Homo sapiens: one gene and its partner. The protein of the gene in region 2 interacts with the protein of the main gene of each other region in a biochemical or structural test. Each region holds a gene or a part of one and is shown on either strand. Other genes may lie near its edges.

Region 1 (16,275 bases), on a different chromosome or scaffold from region 2:
CAAGTATATCACTGAAGTTCTATTAATTAAGAAATAAATACTGTATGATGTAAGATTTTGTTGAATACATTTAACACCAGTTGGAATATAGCTTTTTCCCCCCCGTAATGCTGCTTTATCACAACTGTATTTTACAAAATCAGCAACTGGATTTAAGAAAGAAGACATAGGAGATTTTATCAACATGCAAACATTTGCTAAATACAAGGTGTACCATCAATGTGTGATTAATTAATAAGTTACTTTTTAAAATAAAGTGCTAGCTTAGATATTCTACTATAAACCATTTCATTGAGTACCTATTATGTAACCAATATTTTAAAATATACACTGAATCTGAGGCAACCCAAAATGAACAATGGAAAGAAAACTAGTAAATCTGAAATGTACTTCACATTCTACTTAATCTAATTTAAAATATAAATTCATTGTGCAACCCATAAGAAAGATGGTCCAACCTGTGGGTATTTTTAAAAATTCTAACAGGAGAAATCATTTAAAATTTTGCTTTTTCACAATGGCAAAAAGGAAAGAATTTGAACATAATATTTAATTTTTAAAAAAATTCAGCCTGACTCCGACCCTGAAGATTTCAGAAAGAACATCGTCACTATTAAAATGATGACAGGCCCAAATGGGGGATTGTTTAACCAGTTTTCCTAAGTTAAACCAAGAATAAGCCACAAGTATTCAATTGTGTTACAACTTAGATCTGAGACATTTACATCAAAGCATACTTCCCTGAACATGTTCACATTTAAAATGCTTAAGGTCTTATTATTAAATCCAAAATACCAAAAGTATTAGAGGAGCTAGTTATACAATATTGGCACAGCATTTTTAAGCAATAATAAAAGTTTCATTTTGTCACCTTAAGTCAAGATCCATTTATCTATTAATAGGTTAAGTCTGAAATTCTGTAACATATTCTAGAAGCACCTACATCCATTATTTCCAGGAGACTAGTTTACTACTATCATGCAATCGCTGAGGTCATATGAGTCTAAAATGAAGGGAATTGCTGAACAGGCCCTTTTGCTGTTGAGATATGAAGCCCAAATCTTTGCCTCTGAAGACGGAATTCAATGTGGTGTGTGTAATCACAAGTAAAAACTTGAGCTAGGGAGGAACCTTGGATATTCAGTCTACATCTCAAACAGCATAGCTGCCAAAAATGAGGCCTGTCCATTAAAGTGGAGGAGATATCCTTGCTGATGGCAAAAACTGCTTTTTCTTTTTGGGACGGAATCTTGCTCTGTCGCTCGGGTTGGAGTGCAGTGGCGCCATCTCAGCTCACCAAAACCTCCACCTCCTGAGTTCAAGTAATTCTCTGCCTCAGCCTCACGAGTAGCTGACAGGCGCCCACCTCCACGCCCGGCTAATTTTTGTATTTTTAGTAGAGATGGGGTTTCACCATCTTGGCCAGGCTGGTCTTGAACTCCTGACCTCGTGATCCACCTGCCTCGGCCTCCCAAAGTGCTGGGATTACAGGTGTGAGCCACCATGCCTGGCCAAGAACTGCTTGCTGAAGCAGGTTTTTGGGACGATATGCTCAACACCACAGGGTGATAACATACTTAGAAAAGAATATGTATCTCTAAAATATTCTTGCCAGATCTCAAAAAACTACTCTTCTTGACATGCTACAGAGTCAACAAATTAACCTTCTCAGGCACATTATGTTTAAATGTTTCTTAGAAGGTAAAGAAGGAAACCTGGCTGGGCACGGTGGCTCACGTCTGTAATCCCAGCACTTTGGGAGGCTGAGGCTGGTGGATCACTTGAGGCCAGGAGTACGAGATCAGACTGGCCAAGATGGTGAAACCCCATCTCTACTAAAAATACAAAAATTAGCCGGGCATGGTGGCACATGCCTATAGTCCCAGCTACTTGGGAGGCTGAGGCACAAGAATTGCTTGAACCCAGGAGGCAGAGGTTGAGGTTGCAATGAGCCAAAATCACACCACTGTACACTCCAGCCTGGGTGACAGAGTGAGACTCTGTCTTTAAAAAAAAAAAAAAAGGAACATTAACTGCAATATTCTTGATGATGCAAATTTTTAAAAACTAAATCCAGCCAGATTTTTCAGCCTTAAAAACTAAGATCCAAACTATTCAACATCTCTACAAATTATATACTCATTGAATTCAGGAACAATAACAGAATTCAACAATCAGCTCAACTTAAACTGTAAGTAAACAAATATATTTAGCAACTGGAGCCCCTATTATTAGAAAGCAAAGGTGTAACCATGAAGTAATTGTGGTAGTGAGGCTACTCTGTCGCCATTTGTTTATGTGTATAATTAACCACAAGTGTTAAATAGTTTTTAGTTGCCGAGTAAATATTTAATTATGGGAATTGCTTTAAACTCCTCTTCATAAACTTTAAGAACATTAAAATAAATGTAATTTTAAAATATGTTAAGACCATAGAATTCCTGTGGTCTGTATGCCTGTGACTACTATAATAACTTTTAAGTAGAGGAGATACTCTCTTACATATTTAAGGTTATTTTTATGCATAATAGAATTGCTTTCTTCTGACTAACCTACATGGCAAACTTTCCCCAACCCTCTTTTTCTGGAAATGAATACATTCCTTTATTCTTTTCTCAAAGAACTGTTCTTTATGAAGTGATATAAATAGCCTACAAATAAACATTAATAGCAAAAGTTCATATAATTTTTTTTTTTTCCAATTTGAGATGGAGTCTCACTCTGTCGCCTAGGCTGGAGTGCAGTGGCACAATCTCGGCTCACTGCAACCTCTGCCTCCCGGGTTCAGGCGAATCTCCTGCCTCAGCCTCCCGAGTAGCTGGGATTACAGGAATGTGCCACCACGCCCGGCTAATGTTTGTATTTTTAGAAGAGATGGGGTTTCACCATGTTGGGTAGGCTGGTCGCGAACTCCTGACCTCAAGTGATCTGCCCACCTTGGCCTCCCAAATTGCTGGGATTATAGGTGTAAGCCACTCTGCCCAGCCAAAAAGTTAATAGAAATCTTAATCAAAATATAAATATACATTCATAACTGCCATCTACAATATTCTGTTTTGGTCCTATATCTTAATTTGCCTTTATCCACTTTATTATTCTAATTGTCAACTGATTTTAATAAAACTGATACATCTTTACAGTTGATGCACATATTAGCACATTCACAACATAAAAACAAAAATTTAGAGGTAAAGTTTGGGAGTATTTAGGTTAAGTTACACATGTTCAAAAGTTAACACAGACCTATCTGAAAAGTAACTAAGTTACAAAACAATGCACGTCTATATATCAGAATAATCCAAGACTTTACCATCAAGCAAGACTAACAATCTTCTATTATCAGTCATTTAGACTTATTTGTAAAAGAGAATCCAACAGGAAAAGTATCTTTAACTTGGTCGTGGGGGACTTCTAGTAAGAGACACATTATTATACCACAGAAAAACTGTTTAATATAGCTCTCTAACTCCTTTAAGAACTGCTTTAGGAATTTTTATTTTGGCTTTAAGTGGAATCACTTACATCTAGACATCCTTTGAAGCAAAACCACTTAGAAACCAGTATTTTGTGCTAAGGAAGGGAAGAAATACTACAAAATGTTGCAAAACAGAACAAAAAGCTTAAAGGTTTAAGAAATTTAAAGGCACAGATATTTCACATCAATTCAGATTTTATAGTATGCAAACATGAAATAAACCACCGTATTACAACAAATATGTGCTAGCGATTGGTTAGATTTCACACTTCTCTCCAAATGTAACACTGTCACATTGCATTTCCTCTCTAGATGTATACTGATAGCACTGGGAAAGATGTTCAGATGCAGGGACAATCCCAATGTTTACCAAACTTCTGAAAGATGAGTATACGCTACAAACTTAGTTCCAAATATGAAATGAAAAGGAAAGTCCAGCTATTTAGGGGGGTACTCAAAGTGTCAACTGATCATAACCAGGCTTTTAAAATGTCAAGAACCATTTATATGCTATTACCTACTTTTTATTAATTATAATGATGTTTCTTATGTATGTCCAAAATATCAGTGAAATCTCTAATCTCTGGCCTTCAGATTATCTGTCCCCTCAAAGGACTGAAAGCAAGCACTTTGATTAATAGTATATGGCAAATGATGCATGAGAAACAATGAACTCCCCTCAGAGGTGCCCCACCTGTCAATGCTCTTAAACATGAAGCTATCAGGATCTCTTAGATTCAAAGAGATATCAGAATTCAAGGGGACTTTCTTCAGACATAAATACACACACATACAGTATCATTTCTGTCTGTTTCTGTGCCTGGTTCTTCCATTACAAAACTCAAAAATATGACATTTCTTGTGTATACAAAGTTAAAAATGTACTTCTTAAAAAATGCAAACACAATGGCGAGCTGCTATAATGTGTACATTCTGTTCTACACAAAGAAAATACACTCTGAGTACACACAACAATTCACCAAGGTTAAAATAACCCAACCCCTCAAATTAATACACTGGTCCTTTTGATCTCAGAAGGCGCCTTTGCCTTTTTTCCTCCACCCCCACTTTTTTTTTGGTAGTTTACTGAAAGCTTGTTTTTGTAGATAATCTAATAGAAAAATCTTCACCTGCAAATATAAGGTAGAATTTTTTCACAGCTATAGGCTGTAGCATTGATTTCTCCAGATATATCAATGGAGAACAAATATGTATGACACTGTTAATTCCAGATTCTAAGAAAACTGTCCCAAGAGCCTGTTGCCACAGCCATGCCATCATCAGTTACACCTAAGCAGCTCACACGGTTGTCATGACCAGCAAGGACACCTGAAAAAAAAATTCAGTAAAAAATTGGCAATTGTAGGGTTTTAGAATTAAACAAGTATATGCAGAGATTTAAAAGGGTGCTTATAAACTATCAGTCCAGTTTTCTTGAAAGTTCATCAGTTAAAAAATAATAATAATTTAAAAGAAAACAACAAATTTCTCTGAGTAAGAAGACAAGTTAGGAGTAAGCTGGATGTATTTATAAATTTGGATTATTTGAATTTTGACATGCATCAATTTGTGGTTTTAATTTTTGAAAAATCATCTTATAATTCAACTTATATCTAGGAAAACATATGCAGACAATTATTCCACATCTCTAATAAGTTCTCGATATTCCAAATTTTGCTACTGAGCTATGTATGCTATTCTCAACAAAAACAAGATTTTCAATGAAGTTCACTGAAGGAGCCCTTCACCACAGGAACGACAAAAACGTAAGAACAAAGCTGCCTCACATCACTGCTTCCAAGAATACCAACATAATTCATTTACTTTCTTATGCTAATCACCAAACTCTGGAATGTTATTGGTTATAACTTTCTGAAACCATGAAACTCATCTAGTTTTCATTTCTTTCACACATTAAACTCATTTGATGTATTTCCAGTATTTTGGAAGAAAACAAGAAATACAGTAAGATTAATAAGAAAAATTAGAATACATCAAATGCTCAAAATTTTTAAATACAGTGTTTGAATTTGCATTCTCTCTCTCTATTCTTAAGCATATCATTTTCGATCAATCAGGAACAGAAGTTCATCTTGTAACTCTTAATATTCTCTATAGTATCTCCAGTATGGCCATGTTTGGCAATGGGAAAATTTACCATTATGAGTTGAAATAACAAAAAAAATGAACATTGTGGCTAAATACTTTAAGTCACACTGGAGAGGGAAATGAATTAGCAATTCACAAGTCAGGATCCAATTTTAAGTTCAAAGTTCCAGTTGAGCCAACCTGAAACCAGCTTGTAGGCAAAGCAAAACTAAACCTCAAGCATATAAGTGTGGACAACAAGCACATTTTTATTTTGTTATGGATACTAATTGTTTCAATCCAGGCAAAACACCAAATATCTTTAAAAGGTAATTGGCCTTAAGCAACGGAATACTTCCAGGAATCTACTTGCAAAGTGTAAAACTGCAAACCATGCAGTCTCTTGAAAGAGGTTGTAGAAAATTATTCCTGGAAAAAACTTACACTGCCTCTGCTCCCTCAGGAACCCCAACAACTGCATAGCGGGGGTTAAAAGGGTAAGGACATAAATCCACAAGGACAGTGAGATGAGAGCAGGCAATGGCAACGAACTTTCGTAAGCTGGATGGTGGCAACTGTGTTAATGAACCCCAAAATACTGAGTTCAAAATGAATAGTAAGCCAAGTAACAAAATTACACTGCAGATTCTCCAAAAGTGTCCCTACTAGGTAGAACCAGGTATCTCTGGAACAGGTAGGGGCAAAGGCAGAGTAAAATAAGATTGTGCTGGAAAGTGTTCATCAATCAGTAAGAGCCCCCAGGTGTCCCCTTCCTCCACTCTGCAGTCAGGTGACAGATCATCCTGCGCTGTGGCGTAAGGCCAGAGACTCACTCAGAGGAAAGGGTAAAACAGGGTCTCCTGACTGGAAGAAAACAGGCACAGATGCGATTGATAAAACTGTGCTGAAATGGGGAATAAAGTTTACTAGCTAAATGTTGTGGTCCCTCAGGTTTTCTCTTGAAATCAGCCCTCAAACTGGCAGCCAGTTTATACACTTCATGGAGGAAAGTGGAAGATGGAAAAAGGAAGAAAGGCAGAAAGGCAGACACAGCAAAGCTTCCTCAGTGAACGGCCAGCCTAGAGTAAATGGAGGCCGAGTCAGCACACCAGCCACGTGCCCAGAGCTTCAAATGGTTTTAGTGCCTCGCTCTTAAGTATGAATAAGAATTAACACTTTTAAGGAAATATTCTAAAAATAAAGACAGGAAACCCCAAAAATGAAGAAAAAAAAAACTTGGAAACACAAAAGATGATGCTTGAAGAAGAAACTTAAAAAAAAAATTCTTTCACTAATAATAGCTCTTAAGTTAAAAAGATGGTAGCGAAAATGAAAACCAAAACTTAACAGAAGGGTGGAAACCTGAGGTGAGGTTTCCTCCCAGAAGATAAAGCAAAAAAGATGGAAAATAAAAAATATAATTAAAAAGTCAGGCCGGGCGCAGTGGCTCACGCCTGTAATCCCAGCACTTTGGGAGGCTGAGGTGGGCAGATCACCTGAGGTCAGGAGTTCGAGACCAGCCTGACCAACATGGTGAAACTCCACCTCTACTGAAAATACAAAAATTAGCTGGGCGTGGTGGTGTGCACTTGTAATCCCAGCTAGTCTACTCGGGAGGCTGAGGCAGGAGAATCGCTGGAACCTGGGAGGCAGAGGCTGCAGTGAGCCAAGATCATGCCACTGCACTCCAGCCTGGGCAACAGAGCAAGACTCCGTCTCAAAAAAATAAAATAAAATAAAATAAAGTTAAGTAAAATAAAAATTCTTAAAAAACAAAAAAAGTCAAAAGGATCAGTCCAGGAAGCCCATTTTCAACATAATGGGAGATCTAGAAAAAGGGAATGATGATAATAGAGAAGAAATAAAATTCAACAAGCCCCCACCCCCAAATGTCCCTGTTCTATAGGGTAATGAGTTTCCGGATCAAAAAGGCTCACTAAATACCCAGCACAATGAACGAAAATGGATCCGCTCCGAGACACATCAAAACTGGCATAAAGTGTGAAGATTCATTAGTGAGAAGCACATAGAAACTAAGAATATAAACCAAAAAATTAACTCTAGAAAATACAAAAAAGCTGCATGGCAAAAGAAGTCATAACACATCTCATGGCTCAGCAGCAAATGACTTTTTAAAAAGTCGGAATTATGTAAACAGTGAATGTGGTTCTAAACAAAATCTATCATATGGGAAAAACTGGTTGGGAAGAACATGGCTACGGCAGGAGCAGCTTAAAACCCAACCCTTCTCATCCATGATAATAGGTCAACAACAGATAACACCTGAATTTTTATTTTTTTAAACAAGTAACAGCAATACAGGCATGTTATTTAGAGATATGTAAGTAAGCCAGGTGAGGTGATTCAAGCCTGTAATCCCAGCTACTCCAGAGGCTGAGGCGGGAAGAAACCAACCTTAGCAACATAAAGAGACCCTGTCCCAACAAAACAAAACAAAGGGGGCGGGGAGAGAGGAGGGGTAGGTAAATTACTAAATGTAGTTACTTTGGGGAGCAGAAACTATGGGTTGGGGATGAAGCAACTGCTGTGTTTTGGTAACAAGCTATATAGGACAACTGGATTCCTTTAAGTATAATTTTGATTTTTAAAAATAGCTAAAAATTACTCTGTATGACTTGTTATTAATGACAGTCCCCAGTATGGCTTAATGTGTATTGTCATCTTGTAGAAGCTGCAGAGGAGGACTCAGGGTATGGGGCTAAGGGAAGCGACAGGTCTATGTCCTGTCCCATACAAGATCTGCTTCAGAAGGAAGAAAACCAGCAGTTACAATGTTTCCTGTCAGGTGATAAGAAAAGTGTGATTTCTAAAAGACCACACTGAATCACATTCACTATCCATCTTTAATTCTGAAGTCTACCAAATAAGAAAATATTACAGACCTCAGTGTGATTCTTCAGAAAGCAAAAGTGTAAATATGGCTTATGGATTATAACCACAAACAAAAGGTAACAACAAAGAACATGATGAGAACCATCGGGTTACCACTTTCCACAACTCCAAGATGTCCATGGAGGCCTAGAACACAACTGATGGGAACCTCTTCACGCTTCCTGAAAATCAGAACCTAATGTGGACTTATTTACTAACCTGCACGATCTCCTTTTAGCGTGTCCCATACATTACAATTAAAGTCATCGTAACCAGCCAACAAGAGACGCCCACTTTTTGAGAAGGCTACAGAAGTGATTCCACAGATGATATTGTCATGAGAATACAATAATAACTCTTGATCTGCACGAAGGTCAAAGAGCCGGCAAGTGGCATCATCAGAGCCAGTGGCGAAGGCATATCCATTTGGGAAAAACTAGACAGGAAAGTAACAAACATTTATTCTACAGATGTATGCACAATCATAGGAGGCAATGTAATAATAGACAAATCTAGATTAATATTCCAACTTGGCTACCTACCAGGTGAGCGATGTTGGGCACTAAAGATTCTTAAATATTTTGAGCCTCAGATTCCATTTCAAAGTGGTGATTAAGACTGAATTAAATAACATATGCAAAGTACACAGCCCATTGTTCAGAACACAGCAAGTATTCAACAAATACTGGCTCTGGTTCTCCATATGTCATGTTGAAACATTTAAAGCAAGTACTAATATTTATAGAATATATATGTGTGTGTGTGTGGCTGTTGTAGAACGAATGGCAAGGAGATAAAAGGTCCACAATCCTTATAGGGTTATAAGGACCCCTCGGGACAGTTCTTTTTCAGAATTCAGAATTTTTCAGATTTTAGAAAGGTAATATACTGTGTATTTGGTAAAACCCAAATATGGTGCAATTTACAATATACTCTCAAGTCAACATTATTAAATAACACTATTCAAATCCTCAGCATCTTATTTCGTGCCTTCTTAAGATATCAGTATTTCCAAGTTGTCTACTAAAGTCTCCTACACAATGGTGTTTTGGGTCCTTGAATTTTTAATGGCTTTTGTTTTATGAATTTCAATGTTATAGCATCACTACTGTCCCTTTCATTAAGATAAAACTTCTCTCATCTTATAGTTTTTGCTCCAATTCTACTTCGGTTAATAGTAATATAGTAATATTACTACAGATTTCCTTCCAGTTTATGACTTACCCACTCTCTTACTGTTACATTTAGCCTTCCTGGGTCATTTTGTTTTAGGTGTGTTTCTTGCATACAACATTATAGTTCAGTTTATTCTGTATCTTTTAATAGCAGTAATCATTTACGTGTAATGCCTTAAGTGATTATTCTTGGTCTTAATCTCTTATCCTGTATTATATGTAGTGTATTTCCTCCCCACATCATGACTATGATCTCTGATACTTAAAATTATTGGGTCACAGTATTTCTCCCTTAACACTTGGCAGATACTGTTCAGGAGCCTTTCAGCAGTGTCTATTGTGAAAAAGTGTGAGGTTAGCTTGGTTTTTAATCTTTTATATCTAGGTAATCTGCGTTTTCATCTTGAATTTTCTCCCATCTTTTGATACTCTTAAATTCAACAGGATGTGTTGGTTTCTTTTAATTACTTTTTTTTGTTATTTTTGAGACAGAGTCTTGCTCTGTCACCCAGGCTGGAGTGCAGTGGTACAATCTCAGCTCACTACAACTTCTGCCTCCTGGGTTCAAGTGCTTCTCCTGCCTCAGTCTCCTCAGTAGCTGGGATTACAGGCATGCACCACAACGCCTGGCTAATTTTTTTGCATTTTTAGTAGAGACGGGGTTTCATTATGTTGGCCAGGGTGGTCTCAAACTCCTGGCCTCAAGTGATCTGCCTGCCTCAGCCTCCCAAAGTACTGAGATTACGGGCATAAGCCACAGCGCCTGGCCCCTCTTTTAATTACTTTTTAAAAAGTACTTCATAAGACCCTTGGACCTTCTACTCAATGTTTTTCTTCAACTAAGATATTTTTTAAAAATTTACTTCTTGGCTATCCTTCTGCTTCCAGCCAAAATGGAGCAACAGTGATTGGATTTGCTCCATGCCTTAAAAAACTAAAAACAACTGGACAAAAATATATAAAACATGGTTCTAAAAACATTGGATATCAGTCAACGAAGGAGCGTGCCTCTGAGAAACAATAAATAAAACAGGCCAGGCACGGTGGCTCACACCTGTAATCGAGCACTTTGGGAGACTGAGGTGGGCAGATCACCTGAGGTCAGGAGTTCAAGACCAGCCTGCCCAACATAGTGAAACCCCGTCTCTACCAAAAATACAAAAATTAGCACAGCGTGTTGGCGGGTGCCTGTAGTCCCAGCTACCTGGGAGGCTGAGGCAGGAGAATCACTTGAACCCAGAAGGCTGAGGTTGCAGTGAGCCGAGATCATGCCACTGCACTCCAGCCTGGGTGACAGAATGAGACTGTCTCAAAATAAGTAAGTAAATAAATAAATAAGATCATTCCTACAGCTGCTCCATCTTACTACCTTACTACCATCTTACTATGAAAGTTTATAAAGGTCATGGTGAAGGGAAGAGAAACGCAGCTGGAGCCCACTGGCCTCCCTGAGTTGAGGAGAAAGCACTGGGAATCCAAGAAGTCCACAGCAGCTAGAGTTCACAGAGAGTGTCAGAGAGGACAATGCTTGGCAAAGAGAAAACTCCAGAGGCATGCTGAGGACATCCTTTAGGTAGTCAACTGAGTACCGATCAGCAGAGCCGTGTGAGAAAACTAATCAAGCTGCAAAAGACACCCAAAAAGATTACAGGAAACAAACCCTGGTGTGTACATAGGACAAAAATAATGCCTATCCCCTCCAGACAGAGGGAAAACCTCATAATAACCTCATTATACACCGGAAAAACCTCGTAATTTCTTGAGAAGAGGGGTTTTAAGTCTTTTGCCTCACCAGTGGGGCAAAATTAAGCACACACGGTGTGACTCTGGTCCCATCTAACAAAACTTACATGCAAACCCTATAATGATCAAATAGTTTCCAAGTAACTTAACTTGGCCAGTCTGATTTTAGCTATGCCCCAGAGCAAATCTAAATAATATTTTTATGAATATAAAATTATCTAGCATCCAACAAGGTAAAATTCACAATGTCTGGTATCTAATAAAAATTCACCAGACATGCAAAAAAGCAAGAAAATATGACCTATAATTAGGAGAAAAATTAATCAGTTGAAAAAAACAGAAAAAGTCACAGAAGATAAAATTAACAGACAAGGACAACAACGTCTGGGATGAAAAGTGCACTGGATGGGTTCACGGCCGATTAGATACAACAGAAAAGACATATGAAGGCAAAGCAATAGGACCCATCCAAAGTAAAATACAGAAAGAAAAATATCCTGAACAATAAGATGAACAGAACATGAGTGAGCTCTGGGAAAACTTCAAGTGGTTTAATGTCTATGTAACTTAAAGTCTCCAAAGGAAGGAAGAGAGGAGACAGAAAAAAAAATCTGATTAGGGGCTCGGTGCGGTGGCTCACGCCTTTAATCCCAGCATTTTGGGAGGCCGAGGCAGACAGATCACCTGAGGTCAGGAGTTCAAGACCAGCCTGGCCAATGTAATAAAACCCCGCCTCTACTAAAAATACAAACAATTAGCCGGGCATGGTAGTGTGCACCTGTAGTCCCAGCTACTCAGGAGGCTGAGGCAAGAGAATTGCTTGAACCCGGGAGGTGGAGGTTGCAGTGAGCCGAGATCATGCAACTGCACTCCAGCCTGGGTGACAGAGCGAGAGTCAGTATCAAAAAAAAGAAAAAGAAAGAAACTCAAAAAAAAAAAGAAACTCATAGATCCAAACACAAGAAACATGAAGAAGGGCCAGGCATGGTGGCTCACTCCTGAAATCCGAGCACTCTGGGAGGCTAAGACAAAAGATCACTTCAGCCCAGGAGTTCGAGACCAGCCTGGGCAACATGGCAAGACCCTATCTCTGCAAAAAATACACACACGCACACAAAATAGCCAGGCATGGTGGCACGCACCTGTATACCCAGCTACTTGGGCCCAGGGAAGTCGAGGCTGCAGTGAGCCATGACTGCACCACTGCACTCCAGCCTGGGTGACAGTGAAACCCAGTAAAAAAAAAAAAAAAAAATTATGGCTTTAAGTTCCAGTATTAGAAATTTTAAAAAGTTCCAAATCAATGACATCAGCTTCTATCTTAAAAAAACTAGAAAAAAGGCTGTGCACAGTGGCTCATGCCTGTAATCCCAGCACTTTGGGAGGCCGAGGTGGGTGGATCACCTGAGGTCGGGAGTTCGAGACCAGCCTGACCACATGGAGAAACCTCGTCTCCACTAAAAATACAAAAAAATCAGCCGGGTGTGTTGGCTCATGCCTGTAATCCCAGGTACTCGGGAGGCTGAGGCAGGAGAATCACTTGAACCTGGGAGGCAGAGATTGTGGTGAGCCAACATCACGCCATTGCACTCCAGCCTGGGCAACAAGGGAGAAACTCCATCTCAAAAACAAAAAAAAAAAGGCCAGGGGCTGTGACTCACGCCTGTAATCCCAGCACTTTGGGAGGCCGAGGCAGGCAGATCACGAGGTCAAGAGATCGAGACCATCCTGGCCAACATGGTGAAACCCCTTCTCTACTAAAAATTCAAAAATTAGCTGGGCGTGGTGGTGTGCGCCTGTAGTCTCAGTTACTTCGAAGGCTGAGGCAGGAGAATTGCTTGAAACTGGGAGGCAGAGGTTGCAGTGAGCCGAGATCGCACCACTACACTCCAGCCTCGCAACAGAGCAAGACTCTGTCTCAAAAAAAAAAACAAAAAAACAAAACAAAAAAAAAACTAGAAAAAGAAAAGCCAGTGAATCCGAGTGATCAGTTTGGCTTTGTTTCCCCACCCAAATCTCATCTTGCATTGTAATCCCCAAATCCCCACGTGTTGTGAGGGAGCCGGTGGAAGGTAACTGAATCATGGGAGTGGTCTCCCTGCAGGCTGTTCTTGTGACAGTGAGTTCTCACGAGATCTGATGGTTTATAAGGGGCTTCCCCCTTCGCTCGGCACTCATTCTCTCTCCTGCTGCCCTATGGAGAGGTGCCTTCCACCATGATTGTAAGTTTCCTGAGGCCTCCCCAGCCATGCAGAACTGTGAGTCTATTAAACCTCTTCTCTTTATAAATTACCCAGTATCAGGTATTTCTTCATAGCAGTGTGAGAACGAACTAATACACCAAGTAAGCAGTAGAAAAGAAATAATAAAGATGAGAGTGAAAGATCAATGAAACAGAAAAACAACAGAGTATCACTCAGAACAAAAGCTGGTTCTCTGAGGAGATAGTTGATTTATTTATTGATTGATAGATAGATAGATAGATATGTTCATTGCTAAGGCTGCCATAACAAAGCACCACAAGCTGGGTGGCTTAAACAAAAGGAATGTATTGTCTCACAGTTCTGGAGGCTAGAAACTTGAAACCAAGATATCTGAGGACTGTGACAGAAAGATGTGTAATCTTCTCACTGTCCTGTAGATGACTGTCTTCTCCTGTGTCTCTTCACATCATCTTCCCTCTATGCTTGCCTGTCTCCAAACTTCCCCCTTTTATAAGGACAATAGCCACGCTGGATTAGTGTCACCCAATCCATTATGACCTCATTTTAACCAATTATATCTGGACCAACCTTATTTTCAAATAAGGTCACGGTCTGAGGTCCTGGGCTTTAAGACTTCAACATATAAATTTTAGATGGGCACAATTCAACCCACAGTCCCAGACTATCAGGAAAAAAGTAAAACAGAAATTACCAACATCATAAATGAGAGCAGGATATCCTGTAAACTCTATAGATATCAAAAAAATTGAGAGTATAATAAATAGCTGTAAGCCAATAAATATGACAATGTAGATGATATAGATAAAATCTTTGAAAGTTCACTCAAAAAGAAATGGATAACCTAAATAGCCCCATATCTAATACGACATCACATTATACACTGTAAATATATACAATTTGTCAATTATACCTTAATAAAGTAGGGGCTGGGGAGGAAAAAAGCCTTGATCTATGATAGAAATAACTGAATCTGGCACTGAGTTAATGAAATTAATAATCACAGTTTACAATTATTAAGTGTCTTTACTGCTGAGAGACACCTAGAGGCCCCACAAATATAGAGCCAAATGGAAAATTTCAGCAACTCACTCAGTGAATATATGGGGCTCAGCCACAAATGAAACTATTATAGTTTCATTTCTAAGCCTAACATTCTAAACAGTGTGAGAAATGTCACTGTTAAAATCATCACTGAATTTCAAAATATTATAAAAATATAATGAAGTTGGTCATAATTTCATCTGAAAAAAGGAAAACTGTTATATATACAGTATCTTTGTTTGAATCATTTTATTCCAAAAGGAAGCCTCTATATTTACTTATATTTGTAAAAGATGGTACTAATGTTTTGACAAAAAAAAAAAAACAGGAGAAAATCAATGTAAACACACCATTTTAAGTGGCTGAAAAAAAACCACACGAACATCTCAACAGACGGACAAAAAGTATTTGACAAAAATTCAACACTCATTCCTCATAAAGACTTTAGCAAATTATGAGAGAACATCTCAACTTGATAAAAGTAATGGGCTGAGAGATAGAGAGGGTTAACTTTGCCTGCTCTAAAACTCTATTATTCTAACCAGGTTGGCCTACGGCAAAGAGGTGGGGATGGGGTTAGCACAGCATTTACTTTCTCTGATGTTTTCTATAAAATCATGTAAAAAAAGTGACTTTCAATAAGTGTATGATAAAGAAAAGCTTACTAATTTTTCCCCAAAAATGTCTTGTTATAAAATTAGAATGTTTCTCAAACATTAAAATCCTTGGCAATTATGGTACTTTTGGACATTCTAGTCATATCTGTACTGTTTGGCATCTGATCTGCTTAGGTAACCTAACTCAAGCAGTATCCTACCTTCTTTTAACACCCCTCCCCCTCAATTCTGACCATTTGATAATCATTTTGATTGTCATTCAAAATGTTATTTTCACTTTACCCTAATTTACAGATATCTATGACTAGCTTATCCTCCTATATACTGAGTACTTTTTACCTGGCTTAATCTATTTATGGTTTTCTGTTTAGGTAGTTTTTTTAAATACGAAGTAGCTTATAAATAACTGATACAGCAAGGCATGGTAGCTCACTCCTTGTAATCCCAGCACTTTGGAAGACTGAGGTGGGAGGATCGCTGAGCCCAGGAGTTCAAGAGCAGCCTGGGCAACATAGTGAGACTCTGCCTCTACCAAAGATTAAAAAAAACAAACAAACACTAGCCAGGTGTGGTGGTGTATGCCTGTAGTCACAGTACTCCTGAGGCTGAGGCAGGAAGATCACTTGAGCCCAGGAGTTCAAGGCTGCTGTGAGCTATGATCATGCCATTGTACTCCAGCCTGGGCAACGGAATGAGACCCTGTCTCTAAATAATAATAATAATAATTTATACCATTTACTGAGCATCTAATACCTAGTTTCATTTAGTCTCCACACCATTCTCTGATGTAGGTGGTATTATCCCTATTTTAAAAACTGAAGAATCTGAGGTTCACGAAGATGAAGCAGCATGACTAGTTTCACACAGGTGCTTAATGGCAGCAGAACTAAGATTAGGTCCCGGGTTGCACTGACTTCAAAAGCTATACTCCACACTAATCAGCTGCTTTTTTCATCCTTATTGTTCTCTCTTTGGGTTGTTCACTTTGGTCCCAGAAAGACGAGACTTTTTTCTCATCT
Region 2 (16,659 bases):
CTGGAGTGCAGTGGCGTGATCTCTGCTAACTGCAACCTCCGCCTCCAGGGTTCAAGTGATTCTCCTGCCTCAGCCTCCTGAGTAGCTGGGATTACATGTGTGCGCCACCACACCTGGCTAATTTTTTGTGTATTTTTAAGGAGAGACGGGGTTTCATCATGTTGGTCAGGGTGGTCTCAAATTCCTGACCTCGTGATCTGCCTGCCTCAGCTTCCCAAAGTGCTGGGATTATAGGCGTGAGCCACCCTGCCCGGCCTGATTTTTCTAATTCTATATGAGTTTATAGAACCTAAGTCTCACTACACAATGCATGATAACTATTTTTAATCAAATAGTAAATAATTACACAACTATACACTTTGAATAAATTGGATACATAATTTAAATTCTACTTAACAAATTATCAGTCACCAAAGGTTACATTTACAATATATCTAAATATATAGTGGATGTATTTTTTCTTTTTTAATTACAAGCTAATAATTTTAGCAGTTGAACAGTTGAAAATTAAAATATTTTTATTGCACTTCTACATGTTGGCTGGGTTATAATGATAAATGGTAAGAAAAAGAAACAGAATTATATTTAATAGAAGCACCTATAAGATTAGATATTTATTCAGGAAAAACCAGAAGTCGTCCAACTGATTGATCATATGGTTGAAAGAGACATGAAGAGCAAAAGCTAGGACTTGGGAGTGTACACAAATGGATAGCTGAATGTGCTAATAGAAATCAGGATATAGACTTGTAATCGCAACTCCCAACAAGTTAGGGAATAAATGTATTGTCTTGGCCTTTCATGAAAGAAGCAGGTGATTTAAACTGCCTTGCCAGTAACCGGAATAAATGTTTGCTTTCATAGGCAACAGAAGAAAACTTTATAAGTGCAAAGAAATGAAACAGCTAATAGAAGTAAAACTTTACAGGCACCAAAGCTCTAAAATCCCATGCCATGTTAAATGTTAAATGACTAATAGTACTAATAGTTCTATGCTGTTTGGAAGAAATACACCTTTACTATTCCTAAATCCTTCCTAAGAGTAGTAGATCATACTACTCCTTCCTAGGAGTAGTAGTTTTGGGCTAAAATTATCCCTGGGCTCTCAGTAATGCCAATTGATGTCATCACTTGGACAGTGTCAGGAAACTGAAGGAAATAGTTTCTGCTTTTGGTCTGTGTAAACTATTTTTCAAAAGCCTGGGGTATTCTGTTCTTTCCCAGAGAGGGAAAGGAAAGGAATTTCAGAACGAGGATGCTGATATACTTTAGAAAGCTGCTACAGGTTACAGGCGCCTCTCTCGCTTGATAGTAAGGTATACCTACATGTGTAAGTGGGAGAAAAGAGCTAGTCAAGGAGAAACATTGGCTTCTGGTGCCACATTGAAAATTGCAGGTCAAGTTAATGACTAAGTCCATTTGAGCTAGAGCTAACCAGCAAGGGTTTTTCCACGTTTTTCTTTTGGCTCAAACTTGGAGCAATTTTGACCCAAAAGACGGAGAAGAAGCGGGAGAATGCTCAAGGTGAGAAAGAAAGGTCCCTTTTTGTGAGGTTTGGGCTTCAGGTACCTTTGTTATGAACTTGAGCAGGAGTTATACTCTGACGTGTTGCCCTGCAGGATAAAACCACTGAAGGGAAGGTCACTGTGAAAAGGTAAGCCACAGACTGGGAGAAGGTATTCGCAACACATATCACCAAACACGAATAAATGGCCAGAATATATGAAGAATTCCTACAAATCAGTAAGAAAAAGACCAACTAATCTTTAAAGTGGGCAAAGATTCACTGGTTCCTTTGGAGGAGAAGAAAAAAAGGCATGTTTGGCCCAGGCCTGCTGGAAAATGCTGGCAAGCATGAGTGCAGAGGTCCAAGTGTCTGCACCAATGCCACAGAACTGGAGTAGTGCCATGCCCAAGACCTGGAGAGCACATGGGAGATGTAGCTCTGTGCAGGAATAAGTACTGGCTCTCAAAGCCAGGGCTGGCCTGGCCACTACACGGCAGAGAGGCAGGGCACTCTTCCTGAACCCCAACTCAGTATTTTCTTCAAGGCTACTACTACAGGAACACTATTAAGAAGATCTAAATGATGATAAACTAGGGAAGTACTAACATAGATGTGGCTTGGCCTTGTTCCTGACTCAGATAATCTGACTTCTGTCAATGTTATAGGAATTCTACCTGCTCAGTTTCTTAATAGTTAAGGTTAGATCAAACACGTTCCAGAGGTCAGAACTCAGCACTCTAAACCATTGACGCAGGGTTTGGAGATGTGATCTGTCGAACCACCTAACCTTCTGAATCATATTCCAAACCCAATCATACTCCACACCCAAAAGATTACGGGGAGAAATATAAAAGTTAATGCATGAAAAGTGTCTTCTTAAATCACCAACACTCATCTTCCCAAGACAAAACTTTATTTGAAGCATCAAGCAATATACTGAAAGAAGTGTCATGCTCAAGTAATGTTCTTATTTCCATAATTGTACATCTGATACTCTCTGCTCTCTTAAAAAAGACTGCATAGTGAGCAAAGATGAGTAGCACATATGCTTTTATACATAACCCTATCTATATGGTGCTTAAGAAAGTCTCCTTTTAATTTCATTCTTCCTTCCTTAAAAAGCATGTTGGTTTTATCTGGGAAAACTAAAACAAACTAGTTCTTCCACTTAGGATGCAGTTTCTCCCAAGTTATTTATGAAATAACACAGCTGCCTTTTTCTTTAAAGGGGTTCTTGTCTTCTGGAATTCCCTTTACTAGAGGATCCTCTCCAGAACGTTCTTCAATATAGTTCTTTATTTCTTCAGAACATTTAGACACCTTAAGTATAGAAAAAAAAGAGAATACATTAGGTTAGGGTTGTTTAAACTTTGTCCCTACGCCTTAATGAAATAAGTATAATTGAATACAATAAGTTTTTAAACATTTTTTTACATTTACATATATATGTGCATGTGTGTGTGTATATATTATATATATAATACATATATAAAATCTGGGCTCTGCACTCTAATATTTTTATTCTATTACTATACCTATGATGCAACCTATGTAAAATATATTTCTTACTGTTGGTCGTTGGTCAAATTAAAAAATGTTTGAAAGTCACTGCATTAAATAAATCATCTCCAGCAGTTTTTTTCCATTGTGTCTCATATGATTTCCTTCCTCTGCTAAAATACAATTATGCCATGTCTACAATATTTTAGGAACTGAAATATACTCTTATTTTAATTTTCCATGCTAGTGAGCAGGTGCAGTAGTAGATAATCCCCAAATGTTTTGGGGTGTGTAATGCCACGATTCTCACTTATGGGTGTGTGCCATGTTCTGAAATTTCACGAAATGATAGAAGCTTTGGAAAAAGCCTGATTCTGGAAAGATTGGAATTGTCCAAATATCGCACTCTGTGTTGCTCCTCAGAATTTCTTCCTGCTGCATGAGGGCAATGATCATAATAAAAGACTTATCTGAGACTTATTAGGCTTATCTGAGAATAAATTTTTTTCTGAGATGGAGAAAAAATTGAATAGTGTCTTCAAAAAGTCTATTCTTAAAAGAAGAGTTTCTTCAAAAAGTCTATCTATCCTTAAAAGACAGGTTGCAAGAATGAATTAAAAAAAGAATAAAAACAAAAGAAAAGAAATTAGGGTTTTAATGAAGGCCTGTATTGCTAGTAAGAAATTTAAAGTAAAAATTACAGAAGTACCAGCAAATTTAATTTAATTTAATTATTTATTTCTTTTTGAGATGGAGTCTTGCTCTATTGCCCAGGCTGGAGTGCAGTGGCAGGATCTCGGCTCACTGCAAGCTCCGCCTCCCGGATTCTAGCCATTCTCCTGCCTCAGCCTCCCAAGTAGCTGGGACTACAGGCGCCCACCACCACGCCTGGCTAATTTTTTGTATTTTTAGTAGAGACGGGGTTTCACCACGTTAGCCAGCATGGTCTTGATCTCCTGACCTCGTGATCCGCCCGCCTTGGCCTCCCAAAGTGCTGGGATTACAGGCGTGGGACACCGCGCCAGGCCGCACCAGCAAATTTAAATGGAGACCTATGAAAACTGGGCAAATGTTCCCATTGAATTAGTAATCTAAATTAGTAACCTCAAACTGTTTTAACGGTTACTACTAAAACATGTTTGCATGTGTATCCCAAAATGAATATAATTTTTAACTACAAATAAGTACAGACACTGCTTTGTTAATACATCATGCAAAATTATAAAACATAAACTGGAAATTATAAATGGGTGAGGTTTAAAACTAAACAGAAATAGCAATGTTAACATTTTACTTCCACACCCCAAATGATTATCCTCTGCAAATCAGTGTGGAAGCCTCTGACCTCAAATTGAAAACTAGGTGATGTAGTTGTGTGACTTAAAATCTGGCAAAATAAAATCTTTCAAATACAATTCTTTCAGGTAACATTTGCTCTCGTTTGTTGACATTCAGAGTGCATGCATTTTAAGTGAATTTTTAGAGTTGATAATGCACGTGTCATAATTTAGGGTCTGTCGTCCCAGGTTAATTTCTCAGCAAGATACATGCTCCCTACATTGAATCTTTTCTTACAAGGTTTTTTCATTAGGTTTCAGAAGAGGTCTGTAACCTCCAAATGTGAGTAATTGCTCCTCTGATACATTTCCTTCCATAATCAAGAGGACATGTTTGATAAACATTTAACTACAGCCAGAATGCAACTTGCAAGTTTTGTCTGGGCCTAAGTTAAGGACTGAACACGTAGCCCAGATGTTAACTATTTATTGACTGAATAATGGACTGGGAATGAGAAGAAGAATGTTTTAGTACCTGCCCTATCACTATCTATCTCTGTGGTCTTAAATGTGGAGCTAGTTAGCCTTTGTGGGACTCAAGTTTTTTTTAATCCTTAAAGTGAGGGAGATGAATGATCTCTAAACATTCCAATGCTTGCCTAGCAATAATAATGTATAATTCCAAGTGTATAATCAAATGTCTTAATATTATTGTTGAGATTTAGATGCCTCTTTCTGTATTTCCTAAGGTTACATATATCCAAAGTTTTTTCTCCCTCTGGCATACACTTGAGGTTTCTGGAGGTGGGAAGTTGATGCCACAGGCCGTGTCCTAAAGGGTCAGGCTGGCTAGCAGGGAGAAACTGCTAATGAATGATACAGTCAATTTTTACATAGTCGGTTGCATCCACATCACTTAACTTAAAACTCTGAGTAAGTAGAAGACGCTTGTCTTTTTTCCTAAGTTCTACACAGTGATACCAAATATTAAGATATTAGAACCTTGCATAGACAATGCTGTACTTCAGCATATGAAACTCTGTTTAATATGTAACTCCTAAGGTTTATTGTGTGAACATATCTAAGTGGCCAGCACTTGCTGTACTGGGAACTTCGCCATCCATAAAATGGGTCCCTTAAGGTTTCAAGAAGCGTGCTTATTGATTGGGTAGTGTAACTTCCTTTTTTTCCCCTTTAAACGCGTTGGTGTTTTTAAAGCTACAAACCCTTAACATGATAGAAGGGACAGCTCATTATAAAAGCTAGGAAGAGCCGGGATTTGGATGTGAAAGGTTAAATTTGAGAAAAGAAATATGTAAAAAGTAAAACACAAAAATGCCTGCATCTTCTAATCATCACTCAACAGTGAAGACTCTTGCCCTTAACAGATTTATTATAACTAGAACAGGAAGGCAAGTGAGCATATTATAACGCTTCATTTCCATTGTTTTTCTTAATTTTTTCTAGTGCTAAACCATAATAAATAAGATCAGTTCAAAATTTTCTTGCTGAAGAGGAAAGGTTAATTATCTTTAAACAATATCTATTCAAAGACCTTTCCTAGTCTACAGGATGCCTGATTGAGTTAAAACAGGAAGAGGGATTAGTGTCTGAAGGAAGGTCTTGATGACCAGTAAGAAATTGAAGTAAAACTTATAAAACTCCCGAGACGTTTCAGTGGAGAATATTGAATACTGGGTCATATGTTCTCAATGAAATGGTAATCTCTATCAATAGTCTCTAAAACTTTAAAATTGTGATCACTAAAAAAATTTTTCATATGCACCACAGTGTATGTATAATTATTTATAAATAAGTACAGATACTACTGTATTAATCGCATACTAATAAAACATAAAGTGAAAATTATAAAGGGATGAGATTTACAAATAAATATAGAAATTCTAATATTTTGTTCCCAAATTTCGGTGGACTGTTCTTTGCATATCACTGAAGGCCACTGGTGAAATTCAAAATTAAATAATGTACTTGTAAGACTTTAAAATACGGTTTTAGAAAATTTCTTTCAAATATCATCCTTTCTAGTAGTGTAAAAGATCAAAGAACCAAGTAGCTATCCGCTTTTTTCCTACAAGTGAGTTTTGAAAAACAGCTGTCTAATGGAAAGCAAGATTTCTTGTCTATTTTCCCCTTCCTAGGCATCTTAAAAGTTAGGACATTTGGCCTTAAATTACTTATCAGATCCTTGCTCCCTCCTCTACCTCCTAGGATTTCCCCACATCAGCTGGCAGTCCCCAGGCACTGCCAAAGGGTGGTGAGAAGAGAAGCTACAAAAAGGGGGAAAAATAAGCTAAACTATTTGCTTTACTGTTACTAAGCAGGAAAAATCGGACCCTGCTTCATTTCAGAGAAGGAAATATTCCGGAACAGCCAACTTACTTGTTGTCTCTGCAACTTCACTTCTTTGCGAAGCTGCTCAACTTCCATTTTCAGTTTTTCCTTCTCTGGCAAATCTTCGATGTGAAGGGCAGGCATTTTCGCCCCAGAACCGGGCTCGGGCTAGCTCTGGCAGCGGAGCCGCTGGAAGAGCGGCGAAGCTCGGCGCGTCCCGAAACAACTGAAGGCCTGGCCCGCCGCCCACCCGCGCAGGATGTGACTGCAGCCCTGCTGCGGTCCCCAGCTCCCCGAGGGCTTGGCTTTCTCCGGGACGCTTGTCACGCCAGCGTGCCCCAGCTTCCTAGGACCTGAGAACTCTGCCTTTTCTCAAGTCCCTGCAACCCAGGAGGCCTGCCCGGGTGCTAGATGAGGGTTAAGTTTGAGACTGGGTCCAAGCAGCTTCCCGCTGCTCAATCGCCCAGCAGGGATGCTGGCCACGGACAGGCCCTGACTCAGGACCTGCCACGCCCGCGGGGGACGGCTGGGCTGGGGCTGCAGGACTGGGAACAGCAGAAGTTTTACTTTGTGTTCTCCGCGCACCCCCGCTCCTTTTTTTTTTTCCGTTTCCAAGTCACATCCGGGTTTTGTTTGTGAAGCTAGGAAAAGGAGTACACTACCCAGCAGGAAATAACTACCCTTCACCTCTCAAAGAGTTTTAAAAATATGCTAGATATAGCTTTTCCCTAATTACATACATAGGTTGTTGCAAAAGTAATTACTTTTCTCTAATTACATATATAGGTTGGTGCAATTAGTTTTGCACCAACGTAATAAATGCATAGTGGAGAATGCGGACGCTTAAGAAAAGGCTGAAAAGAAAATGAAGCTTAGCCCTAATCCCAGAAATACCCACCAGTGTTCTGCTCATTTGTGTCCATCCGGCTTGTTCGAGGCCTAATATGGGTTTATACATTTTGGGCGAGGAGGGGGCAACAGGGTGTGAATATCGTTTACAAGTTGCAAGAACATTTTCTATTATTAAATAATCATCTGCATCCTCAACAGCAGCAGAGTTTGTATTTTTTTTATTTTTCCGGGGGAATGTTATGTAGAGGGGTGCATCAAAGGATGATATAAGAGAAGACAGAAGCAGGAATCTTAGAGTTCTTAACCGAAAGCCTTTCTCCACTCCCCAACCCTAAGTTTTGGGTGACACTTGACACCAAGGATTTTGAATTCCTGGCTCCTGAACCTTCCTGGATGTAGGCAGTGGATTCATTTAGTATTAGTTTCTCCACTTTCTGGCAAGCACTATTTATCTAGCTGTTGCTCTGGAAAGCCAGGAAAAGTGTCCGATGTGAAAAAAGTTTACATGCAATAAAACTTTCCCTTTAACTGTAACTAAAGTCTTGTTGATGGTGGTCAAAAGAGTAGAAGAAAAATCAAACATGAATGTAAGAAACCTTCCCTAGCAGTTGGATATTTCTCTTTCTTTCCAGAGATAACCTCCTGCCTCACAGAGTCAAAGGCAAGTGAAATATTAACTTAATATTTCAGAGTAGCTGACCCAAGACACCCATGACCATTCCCTGTTTAGGAAGCAGGAGTTTTTGTTCGTTCCTAGTTTCTTACCACGCTCCGCTCAACCTCAATGAATAAATTAGAATGAAAAAAACAATGAACCACTTAATGAATACTCCTGGCGTGTAGTTGCAGCTCTGCCACAGGCCATCACTGAAGAAGTCATTTAATTTTTCTTAGTTTTGGTTTTCTAATTTGTAAAATGTATAGTAAGGCAGGGAAGTAGTGAATCAGCTAAGCTATGTTGTGTCTCTAATTGTGTTGGTATGTCTATATATGATAAATCATTTTCACAAAGAAAATGTTTAAGAGCTTCACTTTCAATATTTGAAATACCAGGGTTTTCCAAGCTCAGAGTAGTTAGAGCATCTACTGAAGTTTACTTGTAAATAAGCAGGGAGACTAGACAAATGTCCATATCTGTCTTGTGCACTAATTCATTTTTAAAATTTTCTATTACTTAAATTTAAAAGGTTGGTCAAAAATACCTTAAATTAGTGAAAGTAATCAACGTGAATGTGGCCTAAATTAAATAGGTTCAGCACCTAAGTTAAATAAATTGGTTAAATAAATTATTGTGTTTTTGTTCTTTTTTTTGTTTTTTTGTTTTTTTGTTTTTTTTTTTTTGAGACGGAGTCTCGCTCTGTCGCCCAGGCTGGAGTGACTGGCACGATCTCCGCTCACTGCAAGCTCCGCCTCCCGGGTTCACGCCATTCTCCCGCCTGAGCCTCCGGAGGAGCTGGGACTACAGGCGCCCGCTACCACGCCTGACTAATTTTTTGTTAATGTGTGTTTGTTCTAAGTCATAAAAATATAATTATTTTGGCTTTGAAGTTTCTTTCCCATGAAATCATCTAGTTGCTTAGAGGGATAAATACTTATAAGCCCATATTGGTTCTTTAACTTTTCCCATCGTATTATGAGACGTATTAGAAACAAAATACTTGTTAGTCTTTTTTATTGTTATTAAATAATTCATATTCTAATATCTTAAGTAAATTGATTAAACTGAAGTGAATTGCAAAATGTTGAAATTGCATGATCACACAGGATTCTGAAAAAGGTTTTATTGTTGCTGGTTTCCTGTTTGTTTGTTTGTTTGTTTGAGACGGGGTCTTGCTCTGTCACCCAGGCTGGAGTGCAGTGGCGCGATCTCGGCTCTCTGCAAGCTACGCCTCCTGGGTTCACGTTATTCTCCTGCCTCAGCCTCCCAAGTAGCTGGGACTACAGGCGCCCACCACCACGCCCAGCTAATTTTTTTGTATTTTTAGTAGGGACGGGGTTTCGCTGTGTTAGCCAGGATGGTCTCGATCTGCTGACCTCGTGATCCGCCCGCCTCGGCCTCCCAAAGTGCTGGGATTACAGGCGTGAGCCACCGCGCCTGGCCCTGTTTGGTTTTAAATAGTAAAATGATGAGAATATTTTTTTTTAAACAAAAGGATGTGTAGTCTTCTATGCCTAGACACCGAATTTACCTCCCAGAGAAGAACCATGTTAAGCAATTTCTCATGTATACTTGCAGAAATAGTTTATCAGCAATATTCAAAAATTTTGAATAAATAAATTTTAAAATTTGTTTAGCTGTGTCCAAATGTTTTGTTAGGTTTTTACTTATATTTTACATAGTACCCCGGTAAAATTTATTTTACAAGTAGTATGAGTAGAAACCATTCTTTAGTAAAAATGACAGGTGCAACCAGCAATGAACTTTGATTAATTAGCCCACTGTCGTTTCACAAATGTTTTATAGAAATTAGTTAATAAAAATAAAAGTAACCATTTTCACTTTTAAATTATAAAAGAGTAACAACCATGAAATTTTTACTTTGGTATGCAAAAATAGGAAAAACAAGGTTTTGACAATTTTTGTGATTTGTTATGTTGTTAAAAATCTATATAAAGAAAAATAAAACATTGAAGGCAGTTAAACTGGAATTGAGCTAATACTAACTTGAACTCAAAAAAGATCAGGATTCTGGTCTTATTTTATCTTGTGATTTTTGCAAGAAACACATTATTTCTGCTTTTTTATTTCGTGTAAGTAAACTAGGTTACCTTTCAAAGTCTGCTCTTCTAAAATTTATAGAGTGACTTTGAGAGGCCGATACAGGAGGATCACTTGAGACCAAAGGTTCAGGAGTTTGAGACCAGCCTAGGCAACATACCGAGACCCCGGTCTCTACAAAAAAATAAATAAATATAAATAAATAAATAAATAAATTTAAAAAGTGCATAGTAACTGTTTTGACCATTGAAATTATGGTTTCTTTAAAGAAAGTACACTTCAGACGCTCTTGGTTCATTTGATATTTGTTTTAATCTGTTAAAACAATCATGAGGCAATTTTCAGGAGCTCATTTGTTTCCTGTAACTACCTACCTAAGATTCCTTTTCTTTTTTTTTTTTTTTTCTTGGGCAGGGGAAGGAGTTTAACTCTTGTTGCCCAGGCTGGAGTGCAATGGCGCGATCTCTGCTCACTGCAACCTCCGCCTTCCGGGTTCAAGTGATTCTGCTGCCTCAGCCTCCCGAGTAGCTGGGATTACAGGCGTGTGTCACCACAGCCAGCTAATTTTGTTTTTCTTTTTTTCTTTTCTTTTTTAGTAGAGACGGGGTTTCACCATGTTGGCCAGGCTGGTCTCAAACTCCTGATCTCAGGTAATCCTCCCACCTAGGACTCCCAAAGTGCTGGGATTACAGGCGTGAGCCACTGCACCCAGCCCTAAGATTCCTTTTCTAGATGAAGAGAATGCCAAGTCAAAGGATGATCTGTGTCTGATGCTCTGAGTATCTTAGCAACTACTTATAATTCAGGATATCAAAATGATTTCTCTGGCTGGGAGTGGTGGCTCTCACCTGTAATCCCAGCACTTTGGGAGGCTGAGGCAGGAGGCTCACATGAGGTCAAGAGTTCGAGACCAGCCTGGCCAGAATGATGAAATCCCTTCTCTACTGAAAAAAAAAAAAAAAAAAATAGCCAGGTGTGGTGGCATGAAATTGCTTGAACCCAGGAGGCAGAGATTGCAGTGAGCCAAGATCGTACCACTGCACTCCAGCCTGGGCGAGAGAGTAAGACTCCATCTCAAAAAAATAAAATAAAATAAAATACAAATAAAAATAAATGATTTCTCTTACCAATTTTGTTTCTATATTACTTTAACTCCCATCATATATAACTGATCATTCTCATTACTTAGTTTACTATTTTCCTCATGTAAACACATTATTGAGGCATTTAGGAAGTTTGATCCAATATAAACTTTTATAAGCACCACTCTTGCCTGCTTTTAAAGTCAATTACATTGTCCAGACAATTTGTTAGTTGATATGACACTTTTCAAAGATGAACAGTGCTTCTGACTTGGGAAATCTCCAATGTAGTACTGAAATTAAAACAACCGTAGAAATTATAATGAGAAAAAGTAAAGTAACGTTAAATGACTTAAGAGACACACAAAATACTCTTGAGGTAGAATGGGAGAGATAGTCTCATAAGAAGAGTAGGATTTCAAAAGGCTGAAATGGGGTGGAGTGGAGGGAGATCTCAGGTGGAGGGATCAGTATGACCAAATTCCAGGTGGTGGGAAAATGTCCACGGGAAGTATAATAATAGAGGACATTTGTTAGGCTTCTTTCTATGTACCCGTTTCTGATCTAAGAGATTATAAGTATTCAGATAATCTAGCCTAATCACTAATTTTATATATAAAAAAAAACAGATTCAAAAAGTTCACGTCATTTGTCCAAGTTCTCAATGACAAGGTGGAAGAGTCAGGGTTTTAATTTTGAATTGTTGGGCTGCAAACTTTGTCTCCAATGGTAAACTGAAAGTTAGAGATGTTGGTTAGGACCATCTTCTACAGGTTACTGAATGCCATAGCATGTACTTACTTTGTATTTATTTTAATCAGAGAAAGGGAGATATACTGAACACTTCACTAAATAAATACTAACTTGCAGGTGGAAAACTTCTAGAGACAAACCACAATTAAATAAACAAATAAATTGTAGTATGCCAGGTGGTGATGGTGCTACGGGGGAAAATAGACTGAGAGAGAGAGACAGGAAGCGCTTGGTGGAGGTTGGGAGGACTGTATGGAGAGGGTTTTGTAAATTTAAATAGGAGGATAAAAAGCTTTTCTTGAGGAAAAATAGATAAGACATTCAGTAACTAATCCCAGAATCCCTTAATACTCAGAGCACATTTGATGAAGACACGTGGTGGGGTGTGTTGCTGACTGTTCAGCCAGAAGCCCAGAGTCTTGACCGAAGAAATTTGTCAGGTGACTTCTCTGAAACTTTATTTTCTCCATTTCAAAATGAAGAGTTTAGACAAGAGTCAACAGATATTTGTTGAGCATTTATGATGATCAGAGTGGGAGGGCATTGTGCTAGAAGCCAAACTTTGGTACAACTTTCAGACTCCCTTCCAGACCAAATAATAGATAATTTTAATGTTTTTTTTTAAAGTGTGACAATCAATTAGTATTTCTGAGTATTCTGATCACTGAAGTATACAAAATAGCACTGTAAATGTGAGACAGCAACAAGAAAACACTGACCACAAAAGTGGTTACTGATTTAGGTAATTACAACTTGTCATTTGTTACAGAAGCAGAGGCAAGTTTTCTCTTAGTCATTAACACAATGGTAGTGAAATGTGACTCATGTAAACTCAACAGGATGCCAGAAGGACCTGATGTAGGTGATGGAGATTTCTCTCTCATGTGTGCTCACCTTGTTAAAGAAAAGACTGTGGTGTTGAGTCTTCATGATGATAGGGTAAAATAGCATGTTTCTTAAAGCACTTTAGAAATTTTGTCTAGATCCTTTCTCAGTAATAATACTAGTTAACACTTATTGTATCTTACCATGGACCAGGTAATATGCTGAGTGTTATAGTTGCATTAGTGTATTACTTAACCCCTACACAAAACAGAAGATATAACCATTATTGTCTTCATCCTATGCTAGGAGAAACAAATTTAGAAAGAATTAAGTAGCTTATCCAAAGTGAGTTGGGCAGTAAAGTGGCAGAGCCAGAACTGTCTGGCTCCTAAGTGCATGCTTATAACCGTGATTCTGCTGCTGGTTAAATTCACCGTGCTCCGTGACCACAGACTGAACCCTCAACCCAGTTGGCATTCTGGGGAAAAGTCACAAGATAGGTGAACTGCATATCAGAAAAATAAGCTTCCTAATTCCATAAGCAAGAGAAAGTTTGGGAAAGAAAACAGAAATTTAACCACAAAATTTCTGGGTAGAAAGTTATAAGTATTGAAAGGGAAGTGAAAAAACATAAAACAGTAAATATATGCTGACAACTCAGAATAATATAGAATCATTTATAAAACATAGTTCTTTTTAAAGAACTTTAAGCAATATTTTTTTGGCAATTATGTGTTAAACCCTGTGCCAGCTATGTTAAGAAAAACATAGAATGATGGGTTACCACACCCCAATTTTTATTAAAAGTTTACATCTATAAATTTAAAAATTCATGTACATGCATAGTAGTAGCATTATGTGTGAAAAAAATCCATATTGTTGTTAACGTTTGAGATATTTCCAAGAATTTGTTTAATTTTTTTTCTTTTTTTTTTGGTATTTTGAAATCACACAGCCTCCTTTGAGCTCTTTGAAGGGATTTTTGTCCTCTGGGATGCCCTTTACCAGTGGATCCTTGCCAGATCATTCTTCAACGTAATCTCTTCTTCACAACATTTGGATACCTTAAGGGGAAGGAAAAACGGATGACTCATTTGGTTTAAAACAGAATACTCCAGATGCCAAGAATTTATTTACTGCAATAAGTTTTCAGGTCGTATAATTTCAGTTTGATTCTCTCTGCTTTCCACCAATGCATACGTACTTTGTAGGAAAGAAGAAAGTTGCACCCTTCCCACTCCTTCTGGATATATCTCCAGACAAAGGAAAAACAGCTGGCCATGCTCCAGCTAAAGATTCCCCGTAGACACTGCCTCCAACATCAAAGGAGACAAGACCCAGGAATCAGAACACAACTGGCAACGGAAGTCAAGAATGTCATCAGATTTCATACTGATTAAATCTTTTTCCTCATTCCAAAAATGTGACTCGTAAAGGTGGAAGAGAATAATTATTAAATTCCAGGCTTATCATCATCCCTAAATTCTCAGAAGTATATACATGGCGTGATCTCCACTCACTGCAACCTCCATCCTCCACCTTCTGGGTTCAAGTGATTCTCCTGCCTCAGCCTCCTGAGTAGCTGGAATTAGAGGCACACGCCACCATGCCCAGCTAATTTTGTATATTTAAGTTTGTTTTTGTTTTGGTAGAGACAGGGTTCACCATGTTGGCCAGGCTGGTCTCGAACTGCTGATCTCAGGTGATCCTCCCATTTAGGCCTCCCAAAGTGCTGAGATTACAGGCATGAGCCACTGCACCTGACCCTAAGATTCCTTTTCTAGATGAAGAGAATGCCAAGTCAAAAGATGAACTGTGTCTGATGCTCTGAGTATCTTAGCAACTACTTATAATTCATGGTATCAGAATGATTTCTCCGGTGAGGAGTGGTGGCTCAGGCCTGTAATATCAGTACTTTGGGAGGTCGAGGCGGGAGGATCACTTGAGGTTAGGAGTTTGAGACCAGCCTGGCCAACATGGCAAAACCTCTTCTTTACTAAAAATACAAAAAGAGTTAGCCGGGCGTGGTGGGACTGAATTACTTGAACCAGGGAGGCAGAGGTTGCAAGTGAGTCAAGATCGTACCGCTGCACTCCAGCCTGCGTGAGAGAGTGAGACTCTTGTCTCAAAAGAATAAAATAAAATAAAAAATAAAAAAACAGATTTCCCTCACCATTTTTTTCTGTAAGACTTTAACTCCCATCATACATAATTGATCATTCTCATTACTCAGTTTACTATTTTCCTCATGTTAACTCATATTTTAGTAATTTAGGAAGATTGATATTAGCTTGGTTTTAAAATTTGGCTAAAATAAAACCAGTACAAATTAAAACAACAGTGAGGTGTTTTCTTTTCTTTTTTCTTTTTCTTACTAAAGCTTACACTCATCTATGTGTGCAAAATATGTTTAAAGTCCAAGTAGCTCAAATGATATATTGTAGTATCTATAATAACTCATTCTCATTAATGACACCAGAAAATTTTGTTAAAGAGTCACATGTTAAGGTTGTGTGGGAGTGGTTTTTGTTGCCTTGTAGTCTTACTTCATTTTCTTTAACCTAGTTATCCCAGTCCTGAAATAACAAATTCTGAACAAACCAAAGTCACTGACAGTTATAGCTCTGTAGCCTGTGGGACAGTCATGATTTCATTTCCTTCTTCCTGGACCATCTTTCTCTATACTTCCTTCCTGTGATTTCTCTCTTACTCAAAACCTGCTGACAATCTGTGTTTTAAGCAACAGGAATTGTCCCCTACTGGTGATTTAATCATGAATTAAGTCAATAAGAATTCTGAATTATCCAATATAAACATTTTATAAGCACTATTCTTGCCTGCTTTTAAAGTCAATTTCATTGTCCAGACAATTTGTTAGTTGATATGACAGTTTCAAAGATGAACAGATCTTCTGGCTTGGGAAATTTCCAATACAGCACTGAAATTAAGACAACCATAGAAATTATAATAAGAGAAAGTAAAGTAATGTTAAATGACTTAAGAGATACACAAAATACTCTTGAGGTAGATTGGGAGAGAAAGTCTCATAGAAGAGTAGGATTTCAAAAGGCTGAAAATGGGGTGGGGTGGAGTGGAGGGAGATTTCAGGTGGAGGGATCAGTATGACCAAATTCCAGATGGTGGGAAAATGTCCACGGGAAGTATAATAATAGAGGACATTTATTAGGCTTCCTTTTATATACCCATTTGTGATCTAAGGGATTACAAGTATTCAGATAATCTATCCTAATCACTAGTTTTATACAAAAAAAAAAAAAAATGTTCAAAGAGTTGAAGTCATTTGGTCATTTGTCCAAAGTTCTCAATGACAAGGTGGAAGAGTCGGGGTTTTAACTTCACATTGCTGGGCTTCAGAATCTGTCTCCAATGGTAAACTAAATGTCATAGCAAATATTTACTTTGTATTTATTTTAATCGGAGGAAAGGGGCCATACTGAACACTTCACTAAATAAATACTAATTTGCAGGTGGAAAACTTCTAGAGGCAAACCACAATTAAATAAACAAATAAATTGTAGTATGCCAGATGGTGACGGTGCTACGGAGGAAAATAGAGTGCGAGAGAGAGACAGGAATTGCTTGGTGGAGGTTGGGAGGACTGTATGGAGAGGGTTTTGTAAACTTAAATAGGAGGATAAAAAGCTTTTCTTGAGGAAAAATAGATAAGACATTCAGTAACTAATCCCAGAATCCCTTAATACTCAGAGCATATTTGATGAAGACACGTGGTGGGGTGTGTTGCTGACTCTTCAGCCAGAAGCCCAGAGTCTT

What was found.
Region 1: the proteins of GNG11 (region 2) and GNB4 form a complex in vitro, tested with the Homo sapiens proteins (one study listed by BioGRID).

Annotation. Positions count from the first base shown.
Region 1 is NC_000003.12:179,396,516-179,412,790, forward strand, and holds part of GNB4 (guanine nucleotide-binding protein subunit beta-4), read right to left. Parts: intron 8,892-16,275; coding exon 8,675-8,891; intron 4,805-8,674; coding exon 4,698-4,804; 3' UTR 1-4,697. UniProt on the Homo sapiens protein: Guanine nucleotide-binding proteins (G proteins) are involved as a modulator or transducer in various transmembrane signaling systems.
Region 2 is NC_000007.14:93,912,259-93,928,917, reverse strand, and holds GNG11 (guanine nucleotide-binding protein G(I)/G(S)/G(O) subunit gamma-11 precursor), read right to left. Parts: upstream 7,184-16,659; 5' UTR 6,781-7,183; coding exon 6,685-6,780; intron 2,828-6,684; coding exon 2,702-2,827; 3' UTR 308-2,701; downstream 1-307. UniProt on the Homo sapiens protein: Guanine nucleotide-binding proteins (G proteins) are involved as a modulator or transducer in various transmembrane signaling systems.